Linked DNA regions of Homo sapiens. The protein of the gene in region 2 interacts with the protein of the main gene of each other region in a pairwise test. Each region holds a gene or a part of one and is shown on either strand. Other genes may lie near its edges. The genes, in order: KCTD21 and CRLF3.

What was found.
Region 1: the proteins of CRLF3 (region 2) and KCTD21 interact in binary tests that used the Homo sapiens proteins (3 or more experiments, as listed by UniProt).

What each region holds. Positions count from the first base shown.
Region 1 is NC_000011.10:78,171,514-78,184,911, forward strand, and holds part of KCTD21 (BTB/POZ domain-containing protein KCTD21), read right to left. Parts: intron 6,473-13,398; exon of another isoform or gene 5,618-6,472; coding exon of another isoform or gene 5,539-5,617; intron 3,071-5,538; coding exon of another isoform or gene 3,042-3,070; coding exon 2,259-3,041; 3' UTR 1-2,258. UniProt on the Homo sapiens protein: Probable substrate-specific adapter of a BCR (BTB-CUL3-RBX1) E3 ubiquitin-protein ligase complex mediating the ubiquitination and subsequent proteasomal degradation of target proteins. Promotes the ubiquitination of HDAC1.
Region 2 is NC_000017.11:30,789,096-30,804,973, reverse strand, and holds part of CRLF3 (cytokine receptor-like factor 3), read left to right. Parts: intron 1-865; coding exon 866-1,073; intron 1,074-7,575; coding exon 7,576-7,663; intron 7,664-8,636; coding exon 8,637-8,814; intron 8,815-11,301; coding exon 11,302-11,524; intron 11,525-12,143; exon of another isoform or gene 12,144-12,401; coding exon 12,402-12,534; exon of another isoform or gene 12,535-14,336; intron 14,337-15,878. UniProt on the Homo sapiens protein: May play a role in the negative regulation of cell cycle progression.

The DNA.
Region 1 (13,398 bases), on a different chromosome or scaffold from region 2:
GTGGTGATTTGTAAGATTTCTTCCTCAAATTGTTTTGTTATGACCACAGCTTCTGCTACTTGGTCTAAACTAGGTTCTCCATGAGGGGCTCTCCCAAGTACCCTTGGCCTGGGACAGCTGTCTTTTTTTGGGATGGAGTCTCTCTGCAATGGCACACTCTCAGCTCACTGCAACCTCTGCTATCTGGGTTCAAGCGATTCTACTGCCTCAGCCTCCCAAATAGCTGGGGTTATAGGCGCCTGTCACCACACCCAGCTAATTTTTGTATTTTTAGCAGAGACGACGTTTCACCATGTTGGCCAGGCTGGTCTTGAACTCCTGACCTCAAGTGATCTTCCCGCCTCGGCCTCCCAGAGTGTTGGGATTACAGGCATGAGCCACTGTGCCTGGCAGAAAAGCTGTCAGAGAGACTCCTGGGTCCCACCGTAGGGGGAAAAGGGCCTTTACTGCTCAAGGGAACTGGCGCTGCCCATGGCCCAGTGTACAAGCTCCCTACTCACAGGGCCTATCTATGGGAAGCCCCTTTCTGGGCCCACCTCCCATGGGTGCCTGTGTCACCAGGCTTCCTTGGCTTTGAGGACCCCTGCCCAGTGGGGGAGGACCCTGGGGACTCTCAAGGCCAAACTCACTTTAGGGATGAATCATGACGTGCAGTTTGGAGGCCTGCATGGCTCATCACCCGGTGGGAAGCAGTGCTTGGGTTGCTTGCCCTGGATGGCACCCTACAGAGACCCAGGGGTGGGACACAGGACTGCAGGGGAAGGCCGCCTTCCTGAGGGCAGGGTCTTAGGGGCCGCACATTTACTCTAAGGGCACTGTTACGGTTCATACCACTCCTGGGCTCCTTGCTGCACAGCACCCTTGGAGACCGTCTCTTTCCTCTGGATCTCCTCAGGGGCCGTGAATCTTCCTCTTCCAGCAGAAAATGGTCGAAAGGTATATGGAGCCACAGATGGTGGGGAAGGTGGGTGAAGTGGGGGTCACAAACGAGGTGAAGCTACAACAAAAGGGGACTGACTTACAGGGGATAGAAAAGAGCTAACTTTGATTCTGAAGACAGATCCCAGAGGGGAATCTGAATTCTGAGTAATGATGTTTTCAGAAAAATGTCTGGTCTCTCAAGGTGACTATTTTGAAAGCAAAGATATATAACTGGGTGAATGGGAAGGTCTGCAACCAAGATCCAGCAAGTGGCAGGACAGATTTTGGCTCAATATAGGGAAGAACTGTCTAACAGTCAGCACTGTCCAACCACAGCAGGAGCTGCCTTGGGGATGGCGCGCTTCCTATCAGCCAAGGTATGCAAGCAGGCCAAGGTGATCACTTGCAGGTACCCAGGGAGAGGCGCTCATCTTCAGATGTGCTGGGGTGTTCTAGGGGTGGGGGAGGACTAAGCAATCATCGAATTATTTCCAACCCTGAGAATCCGTAATAGATTTGTTTAAAATGACCTGTTTCAATGATACCTCAAATTTTTGGGAAAACAATGACAAAAGTCAGGTAACAGGCTGGATTTGGAAGTGATTTCATTACACTGGCTACAGATACTTGCACATTTTTGCAAAGATAGCAGACCCTTTCTAAAGCCAGGAATCCCTTGATTCAGCCCTATCAAGAGGGACATTCCTACCTTCTGAACTCTGCCTGGACACTCATTCCTCTAGACCCTGCCACACCTCATCTCTGACCCCCAAGAGGGGACACTAACAGAGCTCTGAGAATGCACAGCATTCCAAGCCAGCCAAACATGGTCACCCCTGGGCAAACATCCACGATCATGGATGCACCCTGGGGAGGGAGGAGCAGGTGTGACAGGAACCGCTGGGGACTTTATGTCCTGGTTAACTGGAGGTAGCCTCTTGTTCTCATCCCATCCTCTCCACCAGGGCCTTCTTACAGATGGATAAATGCGGCACTGGCTAGCGGTACAGAGAGATGGAGCCCAGGAGAAAACTGCTGCTCTTTTGTCCTGGCTGGAAAATCCTCCTATGGCCTCCTTTAGTACACATCAGCTGACTCTTCACTTGTCATAATAAACCGCCTGTCTGCAGCTCAAAATGGCAAGAAAAAAGGTGGTTCTGTTCAGAGGACACTGGATTCCAAAAGGTGGACTTCATCATGGGGGGAATCAAGTCCTGCTACACAATTAATACAGATTAGTATAGTCCCCTGCCTCGCACCACTGGCGAGATGCCCTCCAAGACCTGGCTGACATGAGCTTCCTGGGACTCCCCATCTCCAGTGTTGTTGGGGTCCTTTTACCTGTACCGTATTAATCGAATAATCTTATTGTTCATAAAATCCAGAGCATGTGGGTGAGAAGAATCGATGCAGAAGCCATCGCTCAGAGCGATTTTCAGTACCTCTTCCACGAAGACCTGGAAGCTGTTGATCTGCTTGTTGGCGGGCACCACCCAGAGCCTCTTGAGGTTCTGCTTGGTGTACTCCTCCTCTGGCAGGCCCTCCACATTGGCCACCCAGTCCAGAGTCAGGTGGTTGGGGTCCTGCAAGTGGCTGGTGATGGAGGAGAGATTGCCATTGGAGCAGTAGAAGAGCTTAGAGCCAAGGAGCTTGAGGAAGAGGCAGGAGGTGCTGAAGATGTTGGCGTTGAAGACCTCCATGCTGGAAGAGGAGAGGCTGTAGATCTGGGGTGCCTCGCGCACAGTGAAGTGGACCGTCTGCACACGCTGGTTCAGTGTGATGTTGAGCATGGCATTCTTCTCGGCCTTGGAGAGCTCCACTTCCTTCTCCTGCAGGGCCTCAATCAGGGGCTGCACCTGGTAGAAGTCGGCCTCCCTGCGGAGCAGCCCCATCTCCTGGAAGTCCTCAGGCAGGTCAAGGTGGGAGGTCCGCAGGAAGTTGAGGATATAGCGGAACACTTTGCCGTCACGGTCAATGAAGCAGTTGCCCTGGCTGTCCCTCTTGGTGGGCATCTTCCCGCTGAACATGGCGCCTAGCATGGAGTCAGGGAAGCTGGTCAGGGTCGCCAGTGAGGTTGTATAGAGCTTCCCCCCGACGTTCAGCGTGATGGGGTCGGACATGGCAGGAGACTGGGTTGCTGGAAGTAGTCCTGGAGAGGGTGAGAAGTGAGAAATGACTATAACCAAACCTTATCAGAGAACTCACAGTCCTTAACTCCTTATTGTACATCAAGCCTATGCCCTTGGGATCGAAATGAATTAATACCTGATGAATGGGTGATAATTGCTAACACTGTGCAAAGTACATTAGCTTCACTAGGGAGAGGGAAAGGAGAAAGGGAAAAGGAAAGGAAAAAGGAAACAGGGAAAGAAAGGGAAGGACCCCTAAAGCCTGGGTCCCCCGCGCCCCCCTCTGCTGCCGACATTCTATTTTAATTGGTCTGGAATACTGCCCCAGCCCTGGTATTTTGAAAGAGTTCCCTTAGTGATTCTAAATGTTCAGTTAGAATAGAGAACCACTGGTCTAAAGAAAGAAAGGAAAACGTGCCTGGACTGAAAGCTATGCTACGTGTTTATACATATATTTGCTTACATAATAGTTGTATCAGCCAGGTGCGGTGGCTCACACCTGTAATCCCAGCACTTAGGGAGGCCGAGGCGGGCAGATCACCTGAGATCAGGAGTTCAAGATCAGACTGGCCAACATGGTGAAACCCCATCTCTACTAAAAATACAAAAATTAGCTGGGCATGGTGGTGGGTGCCTGTAATCCCAGCTGTTCAGGAGGCTGGGGCAGGAGAATCATTTGAACTCAGGAGGTGGAGGTTGCAGTGAGCCGGGACTGAACAACTGCACTCCAGCCTGGACAACAAGAGTGAAACTCTGTCTCAAAAAAAAAAAAAAAAAAAAGGTTGTATCATCTTTTGACACAGACAATATAATCATCCATTCCTGTTGTGCAGATGAGGAAAACTGTGCCAGGATTCATTCCTCAAGCTCAGAAAGGTGAAGTGCCTTGCCAGGATTCAAACTCAGGTCCTTTTATATGAAAGAAAAATGTGTAAATGCTTACTAGCCAAAGATCGGTTCTAAGTACTCAACAAATGGTTTGAGATTTATGACTCCAGGCTCAGTGCTCCTCCTTCTGTACCAGTGACACTGCTGAATTTAATTATTATTCTCTCTCAAAGATTTGACAATGAATGGCCATGATTAGTGTCATTTCCATCTATCTTCAAGGCCCACAGTGGGTCACTCAGCTGTCCGGACTGCAAATGACAATCCTGTTTTTTTTAAATTTTTTTAAATTTTATTATTATTAAAGTTTTAGGGTACATGTGCACAATGTGCAGGTTAGTTACATATGTATACATGCGCCATGCTGGTGTGCTGCACCCATTAACTCGTCATTTAGCATTAGGTATATCTCCTAATGCTATCCCTCTCCCCTCCCCCTACCCCACAACAGTCCCCAGAGTGTGATGTTCCCCTTCCTGTGTCCATGTGTTCTCATTGTTCAATTCCCACCTATGAGTGAGAACATGCGGTGTTTGGTTTTTTGTCCTTGCAGTAGTCTTTACTGAGAATGATTATTTCCAATTTCATCCATGTCCCTACAAAGGACATGAACTCATCATTTTTTATGGCTGCATAGTATTCCATGGTGTATATGTGCCACATTTTCTTAATCCAGTCTATCATTGTTGGACATTTGGGTTGGTTCCAAGTCTTTGCTACTGTGAATAGTGCCGCAATAAACATACGTGTGCATGTGAATGACAATCCTTTCTAGACTTTCACTGCTCCCATGCTGACTTGCCTTGCCATGAAGATGCTCTTGGCTCCTGGTGGCCTGTCCTTTGCTGTCATAACACCCCAAGCTTCTCTGAAACTGGCTGCAAGGTCAGTGCAAATGCAGGACTCTGTCAGAGCACTCTCCTGAAGGCACCCTATCCACTCCTTAACAAAGCCCCCCTAATCTCTCAGCTGTCAGCATCTATGGCTGGCAAGTCTCCTTCACCACATGTTCTAGAAAACAGGAGATCTCAGCTCCAGCTTCCAACACTATACTTTCCCCAGAGCCAACCTGTGGACCAGATTCAGCAATCCTTCCCTGACATGGCAGGTAGGGATGCCAAGAGGAACTGGCCCCAGTATTACCCCCAGAAGAGCCTGTGCTGGTAGAGGAGATGAGAGAGTAAAGGCACAGTGACAAGACAGGTAGAAGATGTGGGAGATGGTCTGGAATGAACCTTGGCACATCAAAAACTATCTGGCTGGCAGACACAGTGGCTCATGCCTGTAATTCCAGCACTTTGGGAGGCCGAGGTGGGCAGATCGTTTGAGCTCAGGAGTTCAAGGCCAGCCTGGCCAACATGACGAAATCCTGTCTCTACAACAACAACAACAACAACAACAACAACAACAACAAAGCAGGGTGTGGTGGCGAGCACCTGTAGTCCCAACTACTTGGGAGGCTGAGGTGGGAGGATCGCTTGAGTCTGGGAGGTTGAGGCTGCAGTGAGCCGTGATTACGCCACAGAACTCCAGCCTGGCAGACAGAGGGAGATCCGGTCTCAAAAAACAAACAAAAACCCAACCTTTCAAGCATGCTTACCGTCCAGATGGAGAAACAGAGGTCTGAGGAGACACCTCCCCAAAGTCACCCAGCAGGGGTGGCGAGAACTTCTCAACATTTCTGCCTCCTGAAGAGGCTGACTGCACTGAGGCCTCCTTTCTCCAGAGGATGGGGGCCATGCCAGTGTGAGAGATATTCAGCTGCCATGCTCGACTCTGTGGCAGGGGCAGGGGTATGTCCCCTCATGATTCCTCCCCAGTCTAATGGGGCACTTTGATATTGCAGAAAGGCATTCCCCATCTGGAGTGTCTGAGGAGAAATGAGTCCATGTGAAATACGAAATCGTCAGTAGAAGCCTGGAGCAGATGGGCTGCGAGACGGTGGGGAGGTCCCACAGAGGTGTGGGCGAGCTGCCGCTGGGGGCATGGCTGCTGGTGTGGAGATGGCTGTGAGGCAGCAACTGGGGAGGGTGCTGTGACTCAGGGCTGAATCTGGCCAATTCTCTCTCCAGAGGGCCCAGGCAGGAGGTGGACCCAGGAGTGGGTCCCCTTTACTCAGTCCAGAATCTTCTTCCCTGTTGCCCTCTTTGTAGGACTCTAGTCTACTCCAACTGTTTTCTTCTGGATAGAAATGTGCATGTTCTAGTTTCAGTCTCTCTTTCTTCTTGAAAACAAACACTCCCTCCCAACATTGGGTTTCAGGCCTAGGATCTATAAAGTGGCTTACCTTCACGGCAGGAAAAGAAGCGGGTGTCAGAGAGGACTTGGACAGTTCCATGGGTCACAGACCCTTATCTCTTCCATGCATTACTGCTGAAGTGCTCAGAGCATTACAGGCGGGGGAGGTCAGGAGCCACAGGGCATTCCCTGGGACCCCTGGGTAGGTGCCCAAACTCTTATTTCTCTGCTTGCAAAAGCAGCAGAGCACCTGCTTTCCTGCGCCCCCGATGACGTCATGGCTCCCGGTCATTTGTCTGGGGAGAGCAGCACAGTTGCACAGGCAGTCAGGGCAGAGGCTGGCTAGCAGGCAGGTCTCCTGCTCCGAGTCTAGGGTGCTCTCTGTGGTGATCTCCCCTTACCTATCCAGTCACAGAGCTCAGTCCTCTAAGCCCTTCTTTTCTTTTTTTTTTTTTGAGATGGAGTCTCGCTCTGTCGCCAGGCTAGAGTGCAGTGACGCAATCTCAGCTCACTGCAACCTCTGCCTCCCAGATTCAAGCGACACTCCTGCCTCAGCCTCCCGGGTAGCTGCAATTACAGGTGCACGCCACCAGGCCCGGCTAATTTATTTTTGTATTTTTAGTAGAGATGGGATTTCACCATGTTGGCCAGGATGGTCTCGATCTCTTGACTTTGTGATCTGCCCGCCTCGGCCTCCCAAAGTGCTGGGATTACAGGCGTGAGCCACCGTGCCTGGTCTAAGCCCCTATTTTCTAGCCACAGGGCCACAGTGTCCATCATCACAAATCCACGGCCCTGCTACAAAAGGCAAAATGACATGACACGAGGGGAGTTTCATGAGTCGGCGGAGGTTTGCAGTCAGGTAGTAATGAACTAACACCACTGAGCCTCAGTCCCCTATGTGTTCCCAGATGCCTCCTGGCCACCTCCACTTGGATATTCTGCAAGTGAGGCAGGAGAACAAGGTTTGGAGACAAGGAACTTAAGGCCAATTTGTGCTAACTTCATAAAAGAGAAAACACCAAGGTCTGGGGCAAAAAATCTGAGGCCAATTCTGTTGACTTCCCAAAGCTGGATCAGAAGGAAAATCCTGGGTCTGGGGGCAGGGACCCTAAGACCAATTAACACCAAATTCCTAAAGCTGAACCAAGAGGAAAAACGCCATCGCCCCAGCTGGGTGACAAAGGATCAAACGCTCCTCTTTGCAACCCTCCCACTCCACCATGTCTCAGGTGGAAAGGGAGGGGGGCCTTGGATTGGGACCATCCCTTTATCTGCATAGGGTGCCCATTCACCTCAGCCTTTAATTAGCCACAGACTAAATCCTTCGTCCAGATAAGGAGTAGCTGATAAGAACCTCAAATGGGGTACCTAAAGCCCAGAGAACTTTGTAACTGGGCCTTTGAGTTCCTTGCTCCGGCCCACTCCCACCCTGAGGAGTGCTTTCTCACTTTAATTCCTGCTTTCACTGCTTCATTCCTGCATTTCATTCCCCTGCTACTCTTTTTATTTTTACTTTTTTTTTTTTTAGTAGAGACGGGTTTCACCACGTTGGCCAGGCCGGTCTTGGACTGACCTCAAGTGATCTGCCCATCCAGGCCTCCCAAAGTGTGGGGATTACCACGTCTGCCCCTCTGCTACTTTGTTCAAAACGCCAAGGACCTGGAAAATTCCTAGTCAAGACCCTCCACCAGTAACACAGGTACCAGAAGCCTCACCTGTGCCTTCCTCTGCCCCTAACTCTGCTGTGAACTCTTCTGAGCCACCCAACTGCCTGAGGGAAGCAGCCCCGACTCTTCAGCCCTACAGTTTGTCTTGACTATCTCCTTGAACCCATCCCTATAGCTACTCCCAGAGCTCAGGCCTCATCCCTGCCCCCTGCACCCCTACATCCTCACTCGGCTCCCTGCCTTCTGTCCACCTTCCTTTCTGGTCTGCAGACTGACCTTCCTGAAGTACCGTCCCTGCCCAACCACCTTCCTCTTTCCCTCTCATGTCTAACCCTGCCCTCCACGCACGCCAGACGCCACTGAGTCAGTCTCCTTCATGCTGACACCTGCCCTGCCTTTGCTGTCCCTAGACCACCCCTGTCTACCTTCTCTACCCTCTCTGCTGTCTACCTTTCAGGCCCAGCCTATGAGTCATCACCTCTGTACTACTGTCCCCAGATCTCCACTAGGTTAACAGCTCTCCTCTCAGGGCTTCCTGGTGCCTTGCACAACCCCCTCTGGCAGCACCCAGCATTCCACCTGCAGCGATCTCCTTTGCACATGGCCCTCTTCCCTGGCTATCTCAAAATGCAGATCAGTGGACATCCATATGGGGAAAAAAAGAACCTTGGTCCATCTCTTATGCTGTTTATGAAAAATAAACTCAGAACATATCATAGACCTAAATATAAAATCTAAAACTACACAACTTCTAGGAGAAAATCTTTGCAACTGTGGATTAGGCAAAGATTTCTTGGATAGGACCTAAAAGGGACAAACCATTAAAAACATCAATAAACTAGACTTCATCCACGTAAAAAACTTCTGCTCTTCAAAAGACACTGTTAAGAAAATGAAAGAATAAGACACAGATGGAGAAAATATTTGCAAAACACCTATCTGATAAAGGATTGTTAACCAGAATATATAAAGAACTCTCAAAACTCAGTAAGAAAATAACCCAATTAAAAAACACATAAAGCTGGGTGCAGTGGCACATGCCTGTAATCCCAGCACTTTGGGAGGCTGAGGCGGGCAGATCACTTGAGGCCAGGAGTTCAAGAACAGCCTGGCCGACATGGTGAAACCCTATCTCTACTTAAACAAAAACAAAAACAAAACAACTAGACAAAAGATCTAACAAATACTCCAGCAAAGAAGATATGCAGATGACTGACAATCACATGAAAAGATGGTCAATATCATCAGTCATGAGAGTATGAAAATTGAAACCACAATTATATGCTACTATATACCTATTAGTGGCTCATATAAAAACTGACAATGCCAATTGAAGGTGAGTACATAGAACAATGGAAACCTCATACACTGCTGACAAATGGTAACCGCTGTTGAAAATAGTTTGACATATGGTATGGTTTGGCTCTGTGTCCCCACCCAAATCTCACCTTGAATTGTAATAATCCCCATGTGTCAAGGGCAGGACTAGGTGGAGATGATTGAATCATTGGGGCGGTTTTCCTCATGCTGTTCTTGTGATAGTGAGTTCTTAAGAGATCTGATGGTTTTATAAGGGGTTTCCCCCTTCGCTTGGCACTTCTCCTTGCTGCTGCCATGTGAAGAAAGACATGTTTGCTTCCCCTTCCACCATTATTTTAAGTTTCCTGAGGCCTCCCTAGTCCTGTGGAACCGTGAGTCAATTAAACCTCTTTCCTTTGTAAATTAGCCAGTCTGGGGTATGTTGTTATTAGCAGTGTGAGAATGGACTAATACAGCATACAATTATCACGTGACCCAATGACCCTACTCCTAGGTATTTATGCCGGAGAAATGGAGACATATGTCCATGCAAAGACTCATATGTGAATGTTTATGGCAGCTTATTCATAATTGCCCAAACTCAGAAACAACTAATTGTAAACAGATAAATTGCAGTACATCCATACAATAGAATATGACTCAGCAATATATAGGAACTACTAAAAGACATTACCACATACATGAATTTCAAAAGCATTACGTCAAGTGAAAGAAGCCAGCCTCAGAAGGTTACATGGTACATGACTCTATCTGTATAACGTTCTGGCAAAGGCAAAACTATAAAGACAGAAATCAGATTAAGTGAATTCTTGGGGCTGGGTTGGAGGGAAAAGACTGGTTACAAAGAAACACAAGGCATATTTTGGAGTGATGGGAATATTCTATTAGGTTGGCACAAAAGTAATATGATGTGGTGGTGGTCAAATGTGTTTATAAAGACTGTCAAAATTCATGTAACCATACACATCTAAAAGGGTGAATTGTGGCCAGCTGTGGTGGTTCATGCCTATAATCCCAGTACTTTGAGAGGCCGAGGCAGGAGGGTCACTTGAGCCCAGGAGTTCAAGACCAGCCTGGAAAACATAGTAAGACCCCTGTCTCAATTAAAAAAAAAGTGTAAATTTTACCATACTTAAGTTTTACCTCCATAAACAGGAAAAAAAATGAAGGTTGTGACCTATTGGCAAGTCATGACATCAATACAGTTAAGTGGGTTGTAACCAATTATATATTGTTGTGAAACTTTTGTTTCAGTTGTGTGTCTATGAACTGGATCATGGTATCTTCATACTGTGGCTGACAAAACAATTTTTTTTGGAAACCACTGCCTAGTTTGTGAGCTGAGAGCAACTGCATGTCTCACGTCTGCATAGTCACCGCCTTGCACTCAGGGGAGGGGTTGTGTGATACTGTGATATAATAAGCAATATACATTTTAGATTTGTCCCCAGCTGTTGGCCAGGGCTAAAAACTGTGTAATTTCCCAAGTGATAATAGCTATAGGAACTTCTTCTATTTTAATAATTGGTTTTGTCCCAGTAGGTGGAGGTTGCAGTGAGCCAAGACTGTGCCACTGCACTCTGGTTTGGGTGACAGAGCCAGGCCTTATCCCAAAGCACCCCCCCCCCCTCAAAATTAATTATAGTTGTTATGCTATCCTAATCCAAATCCCAATAGTATTTTTCAAAAAAGATTTAAATAATTAAAATTTTAATCTGGAAGCACTGATGACTGATAACCTGAAAGAGTATTTGAATAAGACATCTTAGCGCAATGTATTAAACTAGATTATAAAGCAATGACATTTCCCTCTGTGGTTTTAAAACAATGAGAAGAGAAGGAATTTGGTAATAAATGTGAAGAGACACAACTAGCAATGTTTAAAAATAAACATATTGATAAATATATTGATCCTTACAACTCTGGGACCCAGGCAGGACCGATTACATTGTCTTTGTTTCAAAGACAACCTAAAGCAGACCCAAAGAGCGTGAATCCCTTGCCCAGGGCTTCATGTGGATTCTTGACCTCAGAGTCATGGCCTCTGGGAAGTTCTGGTTTGGACACCCTTCAGAGAACCAGTCCTTTAGACGTCTTCGGCAGGAAGCTGAACCCAGCCACAGAGGTCCTAGCCAACAGTCTGTATACTCATGGCGACCTGGAGTAGGCAAGAGCTCTTTTCTGTGCAATTTCCTTTTTTCCTACATTACTGTCCACTTCCATAATGAGCATTACTTCCATAATGAAATGACTTACCATGCAATCCTGTCAGTGGGGACTAGCTGTTGTAACAATAAATGTACTGAGTAATGAAAATTGTCCATCTATCATCTATCTATCAATCACCTATCCATCATTTCCTAGCTCTGCTCACTCACAGAGCCTAGAAATGACACCCAGTAGCAATAAACACACCTAGCCCTGGATCTTTGTTTCTGAATGTCATCATCTCTTCTAAAAGAAACCAGGGCTTCCTGGAGAAACTGATGATTCCTGGACTTTCACAGGAAAAGTTCAAGGTGAGTTCATATAGCCCAGTGAATTAAAAAACAACAACAACAAAACAAGAGTCCAGGCTGGGTGCGGTAGTTCATGCCTGTAATCTCAGCACTTTGGGAGGCCGAGGCGGGCGGATCACCTGAGGTCTGGAGTTCAAGACCAGCCTGGCTAACATGGCAAAACCCCATCTCTACTAAAAATACAAAAAATAGCTGGGCGGGGTGGCGTGCGCCTGTTATTCCAGCTACTTGGGAGGCTGAGGCAGGAGAATCGCTTGAATCTGGGAAGTGGAGGTTGCAGTGAGCCAAGATCGTGCCACTGCACACCAGCCAGGGCAACAGAGTGAGACTCCATCTCAAAAACAAACAAACAAAAAACAAGAGTCCATAATGTTATTCCCAAAAGAAAAAAGAGGGTGAGAAGAAGGGAGTGAGAAAGATAGAGACAGGAAAAATTAATTCTTTTTTTTTTTTTTTGAGACGGAGTCTCACTGTCGCCCAGGCTGGAGTGCAGTGGTGTGATTTCGGCTCACTGCAACCTCCGCCTCCCAGGGTTCACGCCATTCTCCTGCCTCAGCCTCCCGAGTAGCTGAGACTACAGGCGCCCGCCACCTCGCTCGGCTAATTTTTTGTATTTTTAGTGGAGACAGGGTTTCACCTTGTTAGCCAGGATGGTCTCGATCTCCTGACCTCGTGATCCGCCCGCCTCGGCCTCCCAAAGTGCTGGGATTACAGGCGTGAGCCACCGCACCCGGCCAGGAAAAATTAATTCTATAAAAAAGAACACTAATAAACACAGAAGGAATGGCAGAATTAGAAAATTACCAATTTGCAACCCTCAGTGTTGTAATTCAAGCAAGGATCATCCAAGGATGTGGTGTGAAAGGTTATCAGGAACACATAATTATAACAGACTCAGAGAATCACTTCACAGATTACTTATTAATTGTAAGAGAGAAAAATTTACCTTTACGATAGAGAGATCAGGTTGCCATGACCTTAATAATCAAATTTAGCATTCATGGATAGTAAGACCCTGACATCATATCCTCCTGACATGCAGTAAGTACACACATTGCCAAAAACTTAAATCTAACCCCAATCTAATCATTGATAAACCAATCAAACATATTTAAATAGGTGGAGAAGCTCTATTTATTTATTTATTTATTTATTTGAGATAGAGTCACACTCTGTTGCCCAGGCTGGAGTGCAGTGGCACAATCTCGGCTCACTGCAACCTCCACCTCCTGAGTTCAAGCAATTCTCTTGCCTCAGCCTCCTGAGTAGCTGGGAGTATAGGCACACACCACCATGTCCGGCTAATTTTTGTATTTTTACTTGAGATGGGGTATCACCATGTTGGCCAGGCTGGTCTCGAACTCCTGACCTCAAGTGATCTGCCCACCTCAGCCTCCCAAAATGTTGGGATTACAGACATGAGCTACCATGCCAAGGGGCTCTATTTAGATTAAATGAGTTGATAAAAGAGATATAATAGGATGCAATATGTACATCTTGACTGGATCTGATTTTAAAAACCAGAAACTATATAAGGTATTTTTGGGCAATTAGAATTTTTTTTTTCTTGAGACAGGGTCTCACTCTGTCGCCCAGGCTGGAGTGCAGTGGCGCGATCATGGTTCACTGCAGCCTTGACATCCCCAGGCTCAGGTGATTTTCCCAAGTAGCTGGGACTACAGGTGCACGCTACCACACCATGCTAAATTTTGT
Region 2 (15,878 bases):
TGACTTCAAATGATCTGCCCTCCTCGGCCTCCCAAAGTGCTGGGATTACAGGCATGAGGCACTGCGCCCGGCTGAAATAACTATTATTATGCTCATTTGACAAATAAGAAAATTGAGGCATAGAATACTTAATTAACTTAACCAAATTGACATAGTTTGTGAATGATGAAACCAAGATTTGGCTTATTCTATCTGACTTGAAGGGCAGTTCTGTGTACTTCTGTCTGTTTGTGCAAATGAATCACATTTGGTTTATCAATGAATGGAAGATGTATATATACAATGGAATGCCATTCAACCTTAAAAGAGAAGGAAATTCTGTCATTTGTGACAGCATGGATGAACCTGAAGGACACTATGCTAAGTGAAATAAGCCAGATACAGAAATAAACATACTGCACGATCTCATATGTAGAATCTAAAAAGGTCGAAGTCATAGAAGCAGAAAGTAGAATGGTGCTTGCCAGGGATGGAGTTGGGGATGGGGAGATGTTGGTCAAAGGGTACAGAGTTTCAGTTATTTAATATGTGTAAATTCTAGAGAGCTCAAGTACAGGATAGGGACAATAGTTAATAATAGTGTAATGTATACTTGGAATGTGTTAGGAGAGATCATAAGTGTTCTCACCACACACAGAGGTAACCATGTGAAGAGATGGACATGTTAATTAGCTTAACTATAGTTAACAGTTCACTATGTATATGTGTATCAAAATATCACACCTTAAATATAATTTCAGTTAATCTTTTTTTTACTAAATTGAAGAAGATGGTTATACAGTGCTTTTAGATTCATGTGAATTATACCTTTGGATTAGCCTTTTTTAAAGATTCTGATTTTGAGTATTTTGTTATTTCTTTTTAGATCAAAGAAAGTGCATCACAGACAAGGGATGTTCTCAAACAGCATTTTAATGATTTAAAGGGAACCCTTGGAAAGCTCCTGGATGAGCGATTGGTGACCCTTTTGCAAGAGGTGGACACCATTGAACAGGAGACCATTAAACCACTAGATGACTGCCAGAAGCTCATAGAACACGGAGTCAACACTGCAGAGGACTTAGTCCGAGAAGGTGGGGGACCAGGGAGCCTGTTGTATTAGTGCATTCGTCCATTTTCACACTGCTGATAAAGACATACCTGAAACTGGGCAATTTACAAAAGAAAGAGGTTTAATGAACTTACAGTTCCATGTGGCTGGGGAGGCCTCACAATCATGGCAGGTGAAAGGCACATCTCACATGGCGGCAGACAAGAGAAGAGAATGAGAGCCAAGCGAAAGGGGTTTCCCCTTAAAATACCATTAGATCTCATGAGAGTTATTCACTACCAAGAACAGTGTGGGAGAAACTGCCCCCATGATTCAATTATCTCCCACCGGGTCCCTCCTGCAACACATGGGAATTATGGGAGTACAATTCGAGATGAGATTTGGGTGGGGACACAGAGCCAAATTATATCACAGGTTAAATGTGGTTCGTTCAGATTGACATTTTGCTGATTTCTCAGGATAGCAGCAGGCTTCTTGCCAGCTGTGGGGTTCTTAGAATGTTCTTACCTAGAGACAGTTTGTAATATAGGATGACAGATATACCGTTAGGTATCGCATGGCAAGTGCAGTTGAAGTGTTAGTTATAATTAGTTATAAAACAAGAAAGAATAAATGATATGGGGCACATTGAGATGTTTTGATACAGGCATGCGGTGTGTAATAATCACATTGTGGAAAATGGGGTATCCATTCTCTCAAGCATTTATCTTCTGTGTTACAGTCAATCAAATTATATATATATATATATTTTTTTTTTGACACAGGGGTTTTGCTCTGTTGCCCAGGCTGGAGTGCAGTGGTGCTGTCAGAGCTCACTGCAGTCTTGACCTCCCTGGCTCAGGTGATCCTCCCACCTCAGCCTCCCAAATAGCTGGGATTACAGGCGCGTCCCACCATGCCTGTAATTTTTTAGTATTTTTAGTAGAGACAGGGTTTCACCATGTTGCCCAGGCTGGTCTCGAATTCCTGGTCTCAAGCAATCTTCTCATCTTGGCCTCCCAAAGTGCTGGGATTACAGGCAAAAGCCACCACAATTACAGTCTCCATTGTTTTATTTAGAAAGTTTAAAAAAATGTGATTGGTGTTTACTCCTATCTTTGCCAATTATTTCCATTGAGTCATGCCCTGCTGCCTTCCTTTCTTCATTATACCACCTTCCTTCAACAGAGATCTTTGTCAGGCACATAACATAAACAAGGGGGCCAGGTGTGGTGGCTCACGCCTGTAATCCCAGCACTTTGGGAGGCTGAAGCAAGTGGATCACTTGAGGTCAGGAGTTTAAGACCAGCCTGGGCAACAGCCTGTCGCTACAAAAAAAAAAAAACTTAGCTGGGCATGGTGGCATGCACCTGGAGTCCCAACTACTTAAGAGGCCGAGGCGGGAGGATCCCTTGAGGCCAGGAGATTGACACTGCAGTGAGCCGTGATTGCACCACTGCACTCCAGCCTGGGTGACAGAGTAAGACCCTGTCTCAAAAAATATAAAATAAGACTAAGAATAAAGGCCGGGCACGGTGGCTCACGCCTGTAATCCCAGCACTTTGGGAGGTGGAGGTGGGCGGATCATCAGGTCAGGAGATCAAGACCATCCTGGCCAACATGGTGAAACCCCGTCCCTACTAAAAATACAAAAATAGCCGGGCGTGGCAGCGCATGCCTGTAGTCCTAGCTACTCGGGAGGCTGAGGCAGGAGAATTGCTTGAACCCGGGAGGCGGAGGTTGCAGTTAGCCGAGATTGCACCACTGCACTCCAGCCTGGGTGACAGAGTGAGACTCCCTCTCAAAAAAAAGAAAAGAATAAAATAGGTGAGAGTTCTTTCCTTTGGGATTCAGAGCCCAGTGAGAGAGAGATACATGCTAAGAGATCAAGACCTTATTGGAGCATAGAGGAGGAAGTTCTTAACTTTGTCTGGAATAGTGTGGGATAGCTTTCTGTAGGAAGAGTTCCACAGAGGCTTGAAGCAATTCATCCAGCAGACATAGGAAAAAGAGGAGGTAACAGCATGATTCCAAGCAGAAGTAACATTATCATAAGTGGAGTGAATGGCATATTCAAGGATTAGTTGAAGCATTTTAAGCAGCAGAGTGACAGGATCAGATGTGCATTTAAAAAAAAAATGACCCTGCCTATTTGGAGACTATGTTAGAGATTGTAAGACTAGAGGGAAAAGAGACTGATTAAAAAGTTATTAGAGGCCGAGGCCAGGCTAACACCTATAACCCCAGCACTTTGGGATGTCAAGATGGGAGGATCACTTGAGGTCAGGAGTTTGAGACTAACCTGGCCAACATGGTAAAACCCCATCTCTACTAAAAATACAAAATTTAGCCAGACGTGGTGGTGGGCACCTGTAATTCCAGTTACTCGGGAGGCTGAGGCAGGAGAATCACTTGAACCTGGGAGACAAAGGTTGCAGTCAGCCAAGATCACAACACTACACTCCAGCCTGGGCAACAGAGTGAGACTCCGTCTCAAAATAAAAAAAAATTATTAGAAACTGGGCACGGTGGTTCATGCTTGTAATCCCAGCACTTTGGGAGGCTGAGGCGGGTGGATCACTTGAGCCCAGGAGTTCAAGACCAGCCTGGGCAAGATAATGAGACCCCATCTCAAAAAAAAAGTTATTAGAAAGTAATCCAGGTAGGAATGGTAAAGGCGGTGGCTGGTAAAGATGAGGCAGGGCTGATTTTAAGAGATTTTGAGCCAGGCACAATGGCTCACACCTGTAATCCCAGCACTTTGGGAGCCTAGACAGGAGAGGAGGATCATTTGAGGTAAGGAGTTCGAGACCAGTCTGGGCAATGTAGTGAGATTGTCTCTAATTTTTTTAAAAAAAAATAGCTAGGCGTGCTGAGCACAGTGGCTCACACCTGTAATCCCAGCACTTTGGGAGGCCGAGGCAGGCATATCACAAGGTCAAGAGATCAAGACCATCCTGGCTAACACAGTGAAACCCCATCTCTACTTAAAATACAAAAAGTTAGCCAGGCATGGTGGCAGGCGCCTGTAGTCCCAGCTACTCGGGAGGCTGAGGCACGATAATGGCGTGAACCCAGGAGGCGGAGCTTGCAGTGAGCCTAGATCGTGCTATGGCACTCCAGCCTGGGCGACAGAGCGAGACTCCGTCTCAAAAAAAAAAAAAAAAAAATTAGCCAGGCATGGTGGCACACACAAGTTGTCCCAACTACTCAGGAGGCTGAGGTGGGAGAGCTTGAGCTATGATTGCAGCACTGCACTCCAGCCTGGGCAACAGAGCAAGACCCTGTCTCTTAAAAATAAAAACAAAAAAACAAGACAGAGTTTTTTTTTTTTTTAAGAAGTAGAATTATTGATGATTTTACTGAGCAGTGACTGTTATCTGTAGATGATTACCTACATATGTGATGGAGGGGAAAGGAAAGGATTTGTGATAACAAAAATCAGCCTACTTTTGGATTCTGAATAAATAGTGGTGCTGTTTTTGACAAAGGAATTGAAGGAGAAGGCGGGTGCTTAGTACGTAGTTAGGCATTTGGCTTGGGCATGGTGAGTTTGAGGTGCTTAAGATGGAAATACGGGTATGATTCTTAGGAGAGAGATCATACCAGGAGATGTCAGTATGGCAGTTAATGGCATATATATCAAATCTGAATCTATTGGAATAAGTACAATCATCAAGGGACACCGTGTAATGTGAGAAGAGCAGATGAAAGAGATTAGAACGCTAAGGGTCACCAACATTTAAAAGTCATTTGAGGAAAAAGGAGCTAGGGAAGGAGACTGAATTCCATCTCTTCTGCAGAATGAGTGCTGGGAGTGGTGTGGGAAAAAGGCGTGGATGATTCACATGGCTGTCACTCCACCTGGAAGTTAATCTTCTTTTGGTCCCACTTAGAATATAGTATGGGTGTTATCTTGACATTGCTGGTTACATTTTTGTCTTGTCTTCAATGAGAAGTGTTTATTTGCCACTGACCATAACAGTACTTTTGAGAAAATTCTAGCAGTACCATGAAATGTCTTTCCTTGGTGGCTTTGCATTTGGAAACAAACCCAGAAGCAGTGCACCACGGGCCAGGAGTGTACACTCATCACCCTGAGGACTGATCATTTGTTTTTATTTTAGAAGATAAATCCTGGCCGGGCGCGGTGGCTCGTGCCTGTAATCACAACACTTTGGGAGGCCGAGGGGGGCGGATCATCTGAGGTCAGGAGTTCAAGACCAGCCTGGCCAACATGGTGAAACCCCGTCTCTACTAAAAATACAAAAATTAGCTGGGCATGGTGGTGGGCACCTGTAATCCTAGCTACTCGGGAGGCTGAGGCAAGAGGTTGCAGTGAGCTGAGATTGCACCATTGCACTCCAGTCTGGGCGACAAGAGCAAGACTCCATCTCAAAAAAAAAAAAAGATAAATCCTGGCTGGGCATAGTGGCACATTCCTGTAGTCCTAGCTACTTGGGAGGCTGAGGCGGGAGGATCCCCTGAGCCCCAGAGTTTGAGGTTGCAGTGAGCTGTGATTATACATCACACTCCAGCCTGGGTGACAGAGTGAGACTCTGTCTCAAAAAGAAAAAATCCCTTTGAGGCAGTGTGAGTGTTACAGCATTTGATACTTGAATATTTTTGTATGTCCAAAATTTAATTTAATTAATTAACTTATTTATTTTTGAGATGGCGTGTTGCACTGTTGCCTGGGCTGGAGTGCAGTGGCACGATCTCAGCTTGCTGCAGCCTACGCCTCGCAGGTTCAAGCGATTTTCCTGCCTCAGCCTCCCGAGTAGCTGGGATTATAGGCGCCCGCCACCACGCCCAGCAAATTTTTTGTATTTTTAATAGAGACAGAGTTTCACCATGTTGGCCAGGCTGGTCTAGCACTCCTGACCTCGTGATTTGCCCACCTCGGCCTCCCAAAGTGCTGGGATTACAGGCGTGAGCCACTGTGCCTGGCCTATGTTTTTTAATTAAAAAAAATTATTATACATCTCAGCAGCAGAAGGAAACTTTAGGAATATTTTTAATGTCAAACTCTTTCCTATTCTCCTGAGGGATAGAAACTTACTTATGGAATTTTGAGGATTTTATTTATTTATTTACTTATTTTTGAGACAGAGTCTCACACTGTTGCCCAGGCTGGAGTGCAGTGGCACGATCTTGGCTCACTGCAACCTCCACCTCTCGGGTTCAAGCGATTCTAGTGCCTCAGCCTCCCTAGTAGCTAGAACTACAGGAGCGTGCCACTATGCCCAGCTACTTTTTGTATTTTTAGTAGAGACGGGGTTTCATCATGTTGGCCAAGCTAGTCTTGAACTCCCAACCCCAGGTGACCCACCAGCCTCAGCCTGCCAAAGTGCTGAGATTATAGGCATGAGCCACAGTACCCGGCCATGTCTCTGTTTTTCTTTTGGTGAAGGAGAAGGTCATATGGTCTCAAAAAACTTGAGTAACTACAGGGCACATTTAGATGGAAAAGAGTTCTGGCAGTGTTCTTCAGGGCTGTGGAAGGACATAGAAGTTGGTCATTTTCATATCATATGCCTCTATGTAACTTTTTTTTTTGGCGGGGGGGACGGAGTCTCGCTCTTTTGCCCAGGCTGGAGTGCAGTGGCGTGATCTCGGCTCACTGCAACCTCCATGTCCCGGATTCAAGTGATTCTCCTGCCTCAGCCTCCCTAGTAGCTGGGAATACAGGCACCTGCCACCACACCCAACTAATTTTTGTATTTTTAGTAGAGACAGGGTTTCACCATGTTGGCCAGGATGGTCTTGATCTCCTGACCTCGTGATCCACCTGCCTCCGCCTCCCAAAGTGCTGGGATTACAGGCGTGAGCTACCGCACCCAGCCTGACATTTTCTTTTTATTGTTCTGTTGAATAATTTGTAATCTGATATATGATACTCTTTTAGGAAAACATAGATGCATCATTTGGCTTTTCAAGCCTTATGCCCAGCCTGGGCAACATAGTGAGACCTCATCTCTACCAAAAAAAAAAAAAAAAAAATAGCTGGGCATGGTGGCGTGCACGTGTGGTCACAGCTACTTGGGAGGCTGAGATGGGAGGATTGCTTGAACCTGGAAGTTCAAGGCTGCAGTGAGTTATGATCCTACCACTGTGCTCCAGCATGAGTGACAGAACAAGACCCAGTCTCAAAAAAAAAAAAAAAAACACCCTATCCCCTGTTGCACCTCTCAGGGCAATATTTTGTACTGGCTCCTATTGAAGTTCATAATGATTCTGTAGGAGAGATGGAAAGAAGTCCCTGGGCTTTCTGCTTTGCCTAAAATTGGTTGATTTCCTTGTATAGAGTAGATAGATTTTTCATCTCTGGCAAAATGTTGCCACTGTATATCCCTTTTCCTCTTGGATTTGATCTTAGAGTCACGTCTAAAATAGTTTCTACTTTAACTTTTTGGGAATTTGACTGTGGCATCACTTAAGAACTTATTTGCAAGAACGCTAGAGACCCACCCAGACATGAGTTGTGTTGATTACTTTATATGTGACCATTTTCATTGTTCTAGTTCTCTTATTCTTGATTGTAGGTGAAATCGCCATGCTTGGTGGTGTGGGAGAAGAGAATGAGAAACTGTGGAGCTTTACCAAAAAGGCCTCGCACATTCAGTTGGACAGGTAAAAGAGTTTGTGCCTTTTTGACTTACTTTTAAGCATTTAAACTATGTCTGCTTTTTTCCTCCCTCTGTTCAAGATTCTCATTAAGGGAGATAGAGAATATATATTTCAAGGTTTTCAGACCATGCGTGGTGGTTTACACCTGTAATCCCAGCACGTTGGGAGGCCAAGGCGGGTGGATTGCTTGAGGCCAGGAGTTTGAGACCAGCCTGGCCAACATGTTGAAACCCTGTCTCTACTAAAAATATAAAAATTAGACGGGCATGGACCTGTAATCCAGCTACTTGGGGAGGCTGAGACAGGAGAATTGCTTGAACCCAGGAGGCAGATGTTGCAGTGAGCCAAGTTTGTACCACTACACTCCAGCCTGGGCAACAGCAAGACTCCATCTCAAAATAAGTATAAAATAAAATAAAAAATTATCCGGGCATGGTGGCGTGCGCCTGTAAGTCCCAGCTACTCGAGAGGCTGAGGCAAGAGAGTCGCTTGAATCGGGGAGGTGGAGGTTGCAGTGAGCTGAGATCGCACCACAGCACTCCAGCCTAGGGGACAGAGTGAGACTCTGTCTGAAAAAAAAAAAAAAAAGCGTTTCACTGCCCATTACCACTGTTACTAATGAAATAGTTGTGATTATAATCCTTGGTATAGTATTACTACACATTTTTTCAATCCAATATATAAAAGAATTGTTAAATTTTAGAAATTATCAATGTATTGTTGAAATGGAGTCATATTCCAGTAAACCAGATCTTTTGGCTTAAACTGGACAGTTATGATCCTACCAATTTTCTGTCTTACTTATATTTATTTGAAAAGAGAATCTTTGTGTAACATCTTGCAAATCCCCTACTGCCATGAGAATTAATTACTGGGGGCTTCAGGATCTTTCAAGCATGTGACTGCTCTAAAATATTTCTTGTATTTTTTAACTCTCAGTTAGAGGTCTCATAACACATGAGCTTTGTTTCCTCAGCTTACCAGAAGTACCTTTACTGGTTGATGTGCCTTGTTTATCTGCTCAGTTGGATGACTCAATTCTTAACATAGTGAAAGACCACATTTTTAAGCATGGAACAGTAGCATCTCGCCCACCAGTACAGATAGAAGAACTAATAGAGAAACCTGGAGGCATCATTGTACGATGGTGTAAGGTATGTAATTCAGAATTCTAGAAATGACTTCCACATTATGGGTTTGCGATTTGGAGGCCTTTCAGATTTTTTCGTTGACTACTTTTAAATACATTCTTTTCTTCTCAAACAAAAATCTCTTTTACTTTACAGTTAAAATGAAGTCACATGGAACACTGAGGTAGCTCTTCCAGTTTTATTTTTATTTTATTTATTTATTTTTTGAGACAGAGTTTTGCTCTTTCACCGAGGCTGGAGTGAAGTGGCGTGATCTCGGCTTACTGCAACCTCCATGCCCTCCCCCGCCTGCCGCTTCCCCCGGGTTCAAGCCATTCTCCTGCTTCGGCCTCCTGAGTAGCTGGGATTATAGGCACCTGCCATCACACCTGCCTAATTTTTGTATTTTTTGTAGAGACGAGGTTTCACCATGTTGGCCAGGCTGTTCTTGAACTCCTGACCTCAGGTGACCCACTCGCCTCGGCCACCCAAAGTGCTGGGATTATAGGTGTGAGCCGCCGTGCCTGGCCTTTTTTTTTTAAATGAAGCCTTGCTGTGTCGCCCAGGCTGGAGTGCAGCGATGCAACCTCCGACCTCAGGTGATCTGCCCACCTTGGCCTCCCAAAGTGCTGGGATTACAGGTGTGAGCCACTCCGCCTGGCTGACATTTTCTTTTTTTTTTTTTTTGAGACAGAGTTTCGTTGTTGTTGTTCAGGCTGGAATACAATGGCACGATCTTGGCTCACCACAACCTCCGTCTCCCGGGTTCAAGCAATCCTCCTGCCTCAGCCTCCCAAGTAGCTGGGATTAAGGCATGCGCCACCACACCTGGCTAAGTTTGTATTTTTAGTATTTTTGTATTTTTAGTAGAGACAGAGTTTCTCCATGTTGGTCAGGTTGGTCTCAAACTCCCGACCTCAGGTGATCTGCCCACCTCGGCCTCCCAAAGTGCTGGGATTACAGGTGTGAGCCACTGTGCCCAGCTGAGATTTTATTAAAAGGAAATTTTTTTTTCTTTTTTTATAAACATGCTGTTGTTATTTTCTAACAGGACTGTCATTCCATTTTTATTATTTTTCCTATCAGTGGACCTAGTTATTTCCAGTTTTTTGCTATAAGTATTTTTACTTGTGTTTCTTTATGGACATATGTGAAGTTTGTAAAATATTAATATTTACCTAGGTGTAAAATTATGAGGTCTTCTTAGAGTATTGGATCCATACGCTGATAGGTAATAACAAACTTTCCACAAGATGATTCTATCAATTTAGCCTTCCAAGGAGTATATGAGTTTCTGTTATTCCATATCTTGACCAATAATTGGCATTGTGAGACTTTATATTTTTGCCTAAATGTACCTTGTTGTGGTTTTATTTATTTGTTTGTTTTTGAGACAGGGTCTCACTCTGTCACCCAGGCTGGAGTACAGTGGCACAATCATGTCTCCAGTCTCAATCTCCTGGGCTCAAGTGATCCTCCCGCCTCAGCCCCCAAGTAATTGGGACTTCAGGCATGTGCTTCCACAGCCAGCTAAGTTTTGTAATTTTTTGTAGAGATGGGGTTTTGCTGTGTTGCCTAGGCTGGCCTCAAATTCCTGGGCTCAAGTGCTCCACCCGCTTCGGCCTCTCAAAGTGTTAGGATTATAGGCATGAGCCATCATGTCTGGCCTTGTTGTGGTTTTAGATCGTATTTGCCATATTACAAATTAGGTACAAATTAGGTTGAATATTCATAATATACATTTTTGGCTATTTATGTTTCTTCTCCTGTAGAACGCTTATTTATGTCTTTTACCCATTTTTCTATTGGGTGGCTAATTAACATACAGAATATATGCAGGACCCCTAAAAATTAATGGGGGTTCTGTATACTGTATGTTAATTATCTCTTGGTTATTATGAATGATGTATGGTTGTGGGAGACTTACTGAATCTTGAATGTTTTATCTTTGGCATTGATTAAAAAACATGCCATTTCTTCAAAGGAGGCAGACTTTTTTATATCAGACTGGGAAATACAGAACACATGGTTCAATAAAGAAAAGAAGGGAGCCCAGGCGCAGTGTCTCACGCCTATAGTCCTAGCACTTTGAGAGGCTGAGACGAGAAGATTGCTTGAGCTCAGGAGTTAAAGATCTGAGATATGGTGAAGCCCAGTCTCTACAAAAAATACAAAAAATTAGCCGGACATGGTGGTGTGCACCTGAAATCCCAGCTACTTGTGGGGTGGAAGGAAGAGGATGGCTTGAACCCGGGGTGTGGAGGCTGCAATAAGCCGAGATCACGCCACTGCACTACAGCCTGGGTGACAAAGTGAGACCCTTTCTCAAAAAAAAAAGAAGGGAGATAATGATGTGATGGCATATTTTCTATGGCCTTCCCAAGAATACCCCATATTCAGCATGTGGGCCTGTCTGCTTGGTCCAAAATGGCTCCGTTCAAAATTTTTAAGCAGTGATGCTGAGAGAAGTCATTTTCTGTTTTTTACCTAACATAAAGCTTTTCTCCCTAGGTGGATGATGACTTTACAGCCCAAGATTACAGGCTCCAGTTTCGTAAATGTACTTCAAATCATTTTGAGGATGTATATGTAGGTTCTGAAACTGAATTCATAGTATTGCACATAGACCCCAACGTTGATTACCAGTTCAGAGTCTGCGCCCGAGGAGATGGCCGACAGGAGTGGAGTCCTTGGAGTGTCCCCCAGATAGGTCATTCCACATTGGTGCCTCATGGTATGCTGCTAACCTTTTCTCTCCTGAAGCCTAACTATATATTAGAATACCTGTATTCTGTGCTAAGGGCAGCACACTGACAACCAGCTATTCTAAGCATAGATCCTGAATTGATAAGAACAACATGCACCATGTCTTTTACTCAGATTACCTCATGTGATTTTTGTTTTCATCAGTTCTTCAGAGTCCAAAAAAAATGCTGGACAAGATTTTTAGCCTCATTGAAAACCAAAGATTGAAAATATTATGTAGGGCACTGATATTCCTTTTTATTCTTTTTTTTATATTTGAATGTTATTTAGTTAGTTTTTTTGAGACAAGGTCTCACTCTGTCGCCCAGGCTGGTGTGTGGTGGTGCAATCATGCAGCCTGACCTCTAGATCCTTCTGCCTCAGTCTCCCAAGTAGCTGGGACCACCTGCATGCACACCACACCTGGCTAATTTTTTATTTTTTTCTAGAGACTGGGTCTTGCTATGTTGCCCAGGCTGGTCTCAAATTCCTGGGCTCAAGCAATCCTCTTGCCTCGGCCTCCCAAAGTGCTGGGATTACAGGCGTGAGCCACCGCGCCTGGCCTATTAATTAGATTTTTATCAGGTTGGAATAAGTTCAAGCAATTATGCTTGTACAATGATTTTATTAGATAAGAGATAACACTTGTGTGATTTATTATGTCAAAATTATGCAGGAATATACTAAAATCTTTTGTAATTTGTGGGACTGATCATGATACCCTGTTAATGGAATCTTTTATTTTATTGAACTTGACCATGGCCCCTAAGAGTAGTCTCCCATTTCCATGTTTTATTTAACGTGTCTGTATTGAAGATATCCCTCAAGAGATTCTAACAGTTTTCAATATCTTTGCTTTGAAAAAGAGTGGACAGCTGGTTTTGAGGGGTACAGTCTGAGCAGTCGAAGAAATATAGCACTTCGGAACGATTCTGAATCATCGGGTGTTCTCTACTCCAGAGCTCCGACTTATTTCTGTGGGCAGACATTAACATTCAGGCAAGTAGATATTAAAACATCTCACCTGCCTCAGGAAGCAGAGTGAAGTGCATAGAGCATACATAAGCTTTGAATTCAAAACATCCTGAGTTTATTCCGTCATTTATAGGCAGTGTTACTGTGGGAAGGCTTCTTTATTTCCTGTAGCTGTAGTTTTCTCATCTGTATTCACAGGGTTATTACGTAGATTAACTGGGAAATGTATATAAAATGCTTGTTATTTAATATGTTTATATCTCTTTTCCTCTTGGTAAGTAGAGGTAAGTAGAGTATCTCTCAAAAGTCAATCTTAGGCTGGGCATAGTGGTTCACACCTGTAACCCCAGCACTTTGGTAGGCCGAGGCAGGTGGATCACCTGAGGTCGGGAGTTCGAGACCAACCTGAGCAACATGGAGAAACCCCATCTCTACTAAAAATACAAAATCAGCCGGGCATGGTGGCACATATGCCTGCAATCCCAGCTACTTGGGAGGCTGAGGCAGGAGAATTGCTTGAACCCAAGAGGCAGAGGTTGCAGTGAGCTGAGATCATGCCATTGCACTCCAGCCTGGGCAACAAGAGCGAAACTGTGTCTCAAACACACACACAAAATTAAAAAGTAAATCTTAAAAATTTAGAGGCCTGGCCAGGCACGGTGGCTCACACTTGTAATCCCAGCACTTTGGGAGGCTGAGGCGGGCGGATCACGAGGTCAGGAGATTGAGAACATCCTGGCTAACATGGTGAAACCCCATCTCTACTATAAATAAAAAAATTAGCCGGACATGGTGGTGGGTGTCTGTGGTCCCAGCTACTCGGGAGGCTGAGGCAGGAGAATGGCGTGAACCCGGGAGGCGGAGCTTGCAGTGAGCCGAGATCACGCCACTGCACTCCAGCCTGGGCGACACAGCAAGACTCCGTTTCAAAAAAAAAAAAAATTTTAGAGGCCAAGAGACTGGACGCAGTGGCTCACACTTGTAATCCCAGCACTTTGGGAGGCCGAGGCGGTTGGATCACTTGTGGTCAGGAGTTCGAGACCAGCCTGGTCAACCTGGTAAAACCCCATCTTTACTAAAAATACAAATATTAGGACAGGCGCAATGGCTCCCGCCTGTAATCCCAGCACTTCGGGAGGCTGAGGTGGGTGGATCACAAGGTTAGGAGATCAAGACACCACCCTGGCCAACATGGTGAAACCCCATCTTTACTAAAAATACAAAAATTAGCTGGATGTGGTAGTGCACACCTGTAATCCCAGCAACTAGGGAGAGTGAGGCAGGAGAATCACTTGAACCCGGGAGGCAAATGTTGCAGTGAGCCATTGCACTTCAGCCTGGCAACAGGGCAAGACCCGTCTCAAAAAGAAAAAAAAAATTAGCAGGGTGTGGTGGCACACACCTATAATCCCAGCCACTCAGGAGGCTGAGGCATGAGAATTGCTTGAGCCTGGGAGGCAGAGGTTACAGTGAGCTGAGATCGCGCCACTGTACTCCAGCCTGGGTGACTGAGCGAGACTCCGTCTCAAAAAAAAGAAAAAAAGCATAGGCCGGGCACTGTGGCTCATGCATATTATCCCAGCACTTTGGGAGGCCGAGGTGGGCAGATCACGAGGTCAGGAGATCGAGACCATCCTGGCCAACATAGTGAAACCTCGTCTCTACTAAAAATACTAAAAATTAGCTGGGTGTGGTGAGGTGCGCCTGTAGTCCCAGCTACTCGGGAGGCTGAAGCAGGAGAATCACTGGAAGCCTGGAGGCGGAGGTTGCAGTGAGCAGAGATCGTGCCACTGCACTCCAGCCTGGGAGACAGTGCAAGATTCCGTCTGGAAAAAAAAAAAAAAAAAAAAAAAAAAAGCAAAAAAATTTACTGGCCAAGAATTTGTTTTGTCCTTTGTGAATCATTAACAGCAAGTCTTTGTAAGAGACAACACTGTAAACATATTATGTATATGCTACTCTCTAAAGTAAAACTGAAAGCAAGCCTCCCCTACCACTAATTAATGTTGTTTCTCTACCCATTTCTTTCTGTAATGGAAAAGTTTCTTTTTTCTTGTTTTCATGTTATCTGAGATGTATTCTTTATAGTCATGTTTCTGAATAGCTCTTCGTAGAAACTAAAGACCAGTTTTGACTTAGAGAAGTAAAGTTTGCCTGATTTTCACCATACTCACCTTAGTGTAACAAGCTCTCCTCTAAGTTTTAAGTCTTGAGATGGGATTTTATTGTGAATGCTTGACCCAAGTTCCTTTTGTTCTCAGGCCCTTATTATTTAAGGCATGGAGAATATCTGAATATTTTATCTAAGCCAGTGTTGCTGTATTCCTCTCCAGCTAAGTAATTTGAATTGTCAGCGGTTGTCAGATTATACTAGTTTGTTTTGTCTAATTTTTGACACCTCACCCCTTAATGAAGAATGACTCAGTAAACAGAAAAATACCAACAAAGAGAGAGAGAGGAAAAAAAAAAACAACTAATACCTAAAATCTATTTAACTATTCCCCAGGTAATCATGAGTTTTCTGTACTTACATACCCCTTCTCTGCTTATGTCCCTTGTTTACAGAAGCACTTCGGTTAGTGACTCTCCTGAGAACAAGGTATTTCTGTGCAATGACAGAGCTTCCTAACTTGATAAATTCAGGCCAGATATCTCAGACTGCAATAATGATGATAATAATAATAATTGCAGTTAATATTTAAACAGTATTTACTATGTGCCATGTACTGTCTTAAGTATTTTACTTGTATTAACTCATTTGATTTTCATGGTAACCCAGTGAGATAGATGGGTTATTTATTTTAGGGATGAGGAAACTGAGGCATAGAGAAGTTATTTACCCAGTGTCACACAGCTAGTAAATGCCAAAACTAGGGTTTAAATCCAGGCAGTTCGACTCCAGACTGGTCTGTATTGCTTCTTTTTCATGGGAGAGTTAACATGATTCTAGTTAGTGTTGAAGTCTACAGTTTCTCTATTACTGTGTCCTTAGCTCTTTAACTTTTACCTCTTATGACCTTTCACCACTTGATCTGATGCTCTCCTGCTTTTTAAATTCTTCCTCCTTGGACACATGGTAATGTCTGATAGATTGCATAGTTAGGTTTATTTCTTAGACCATTCAGTAAATATTTATTAAGACATTGGAAATTATACAAATTGATTTAAATTCACCTCTGCTGACCGTGATGTGAAAGACACATTAGGTCTCAATAAACTGTTGAGTCTCTCTTGCATCTCCTAAAGATGCATCACCAGGCCCCACTTGGCAGGGTGATTAACTGAAATTCAGTTAAACTCAATATAATGGTAGCCAGCCTTTTGCATTTTTGTCATTTTTTTCTTTGTGGAATGAAATGTTTTCTCCC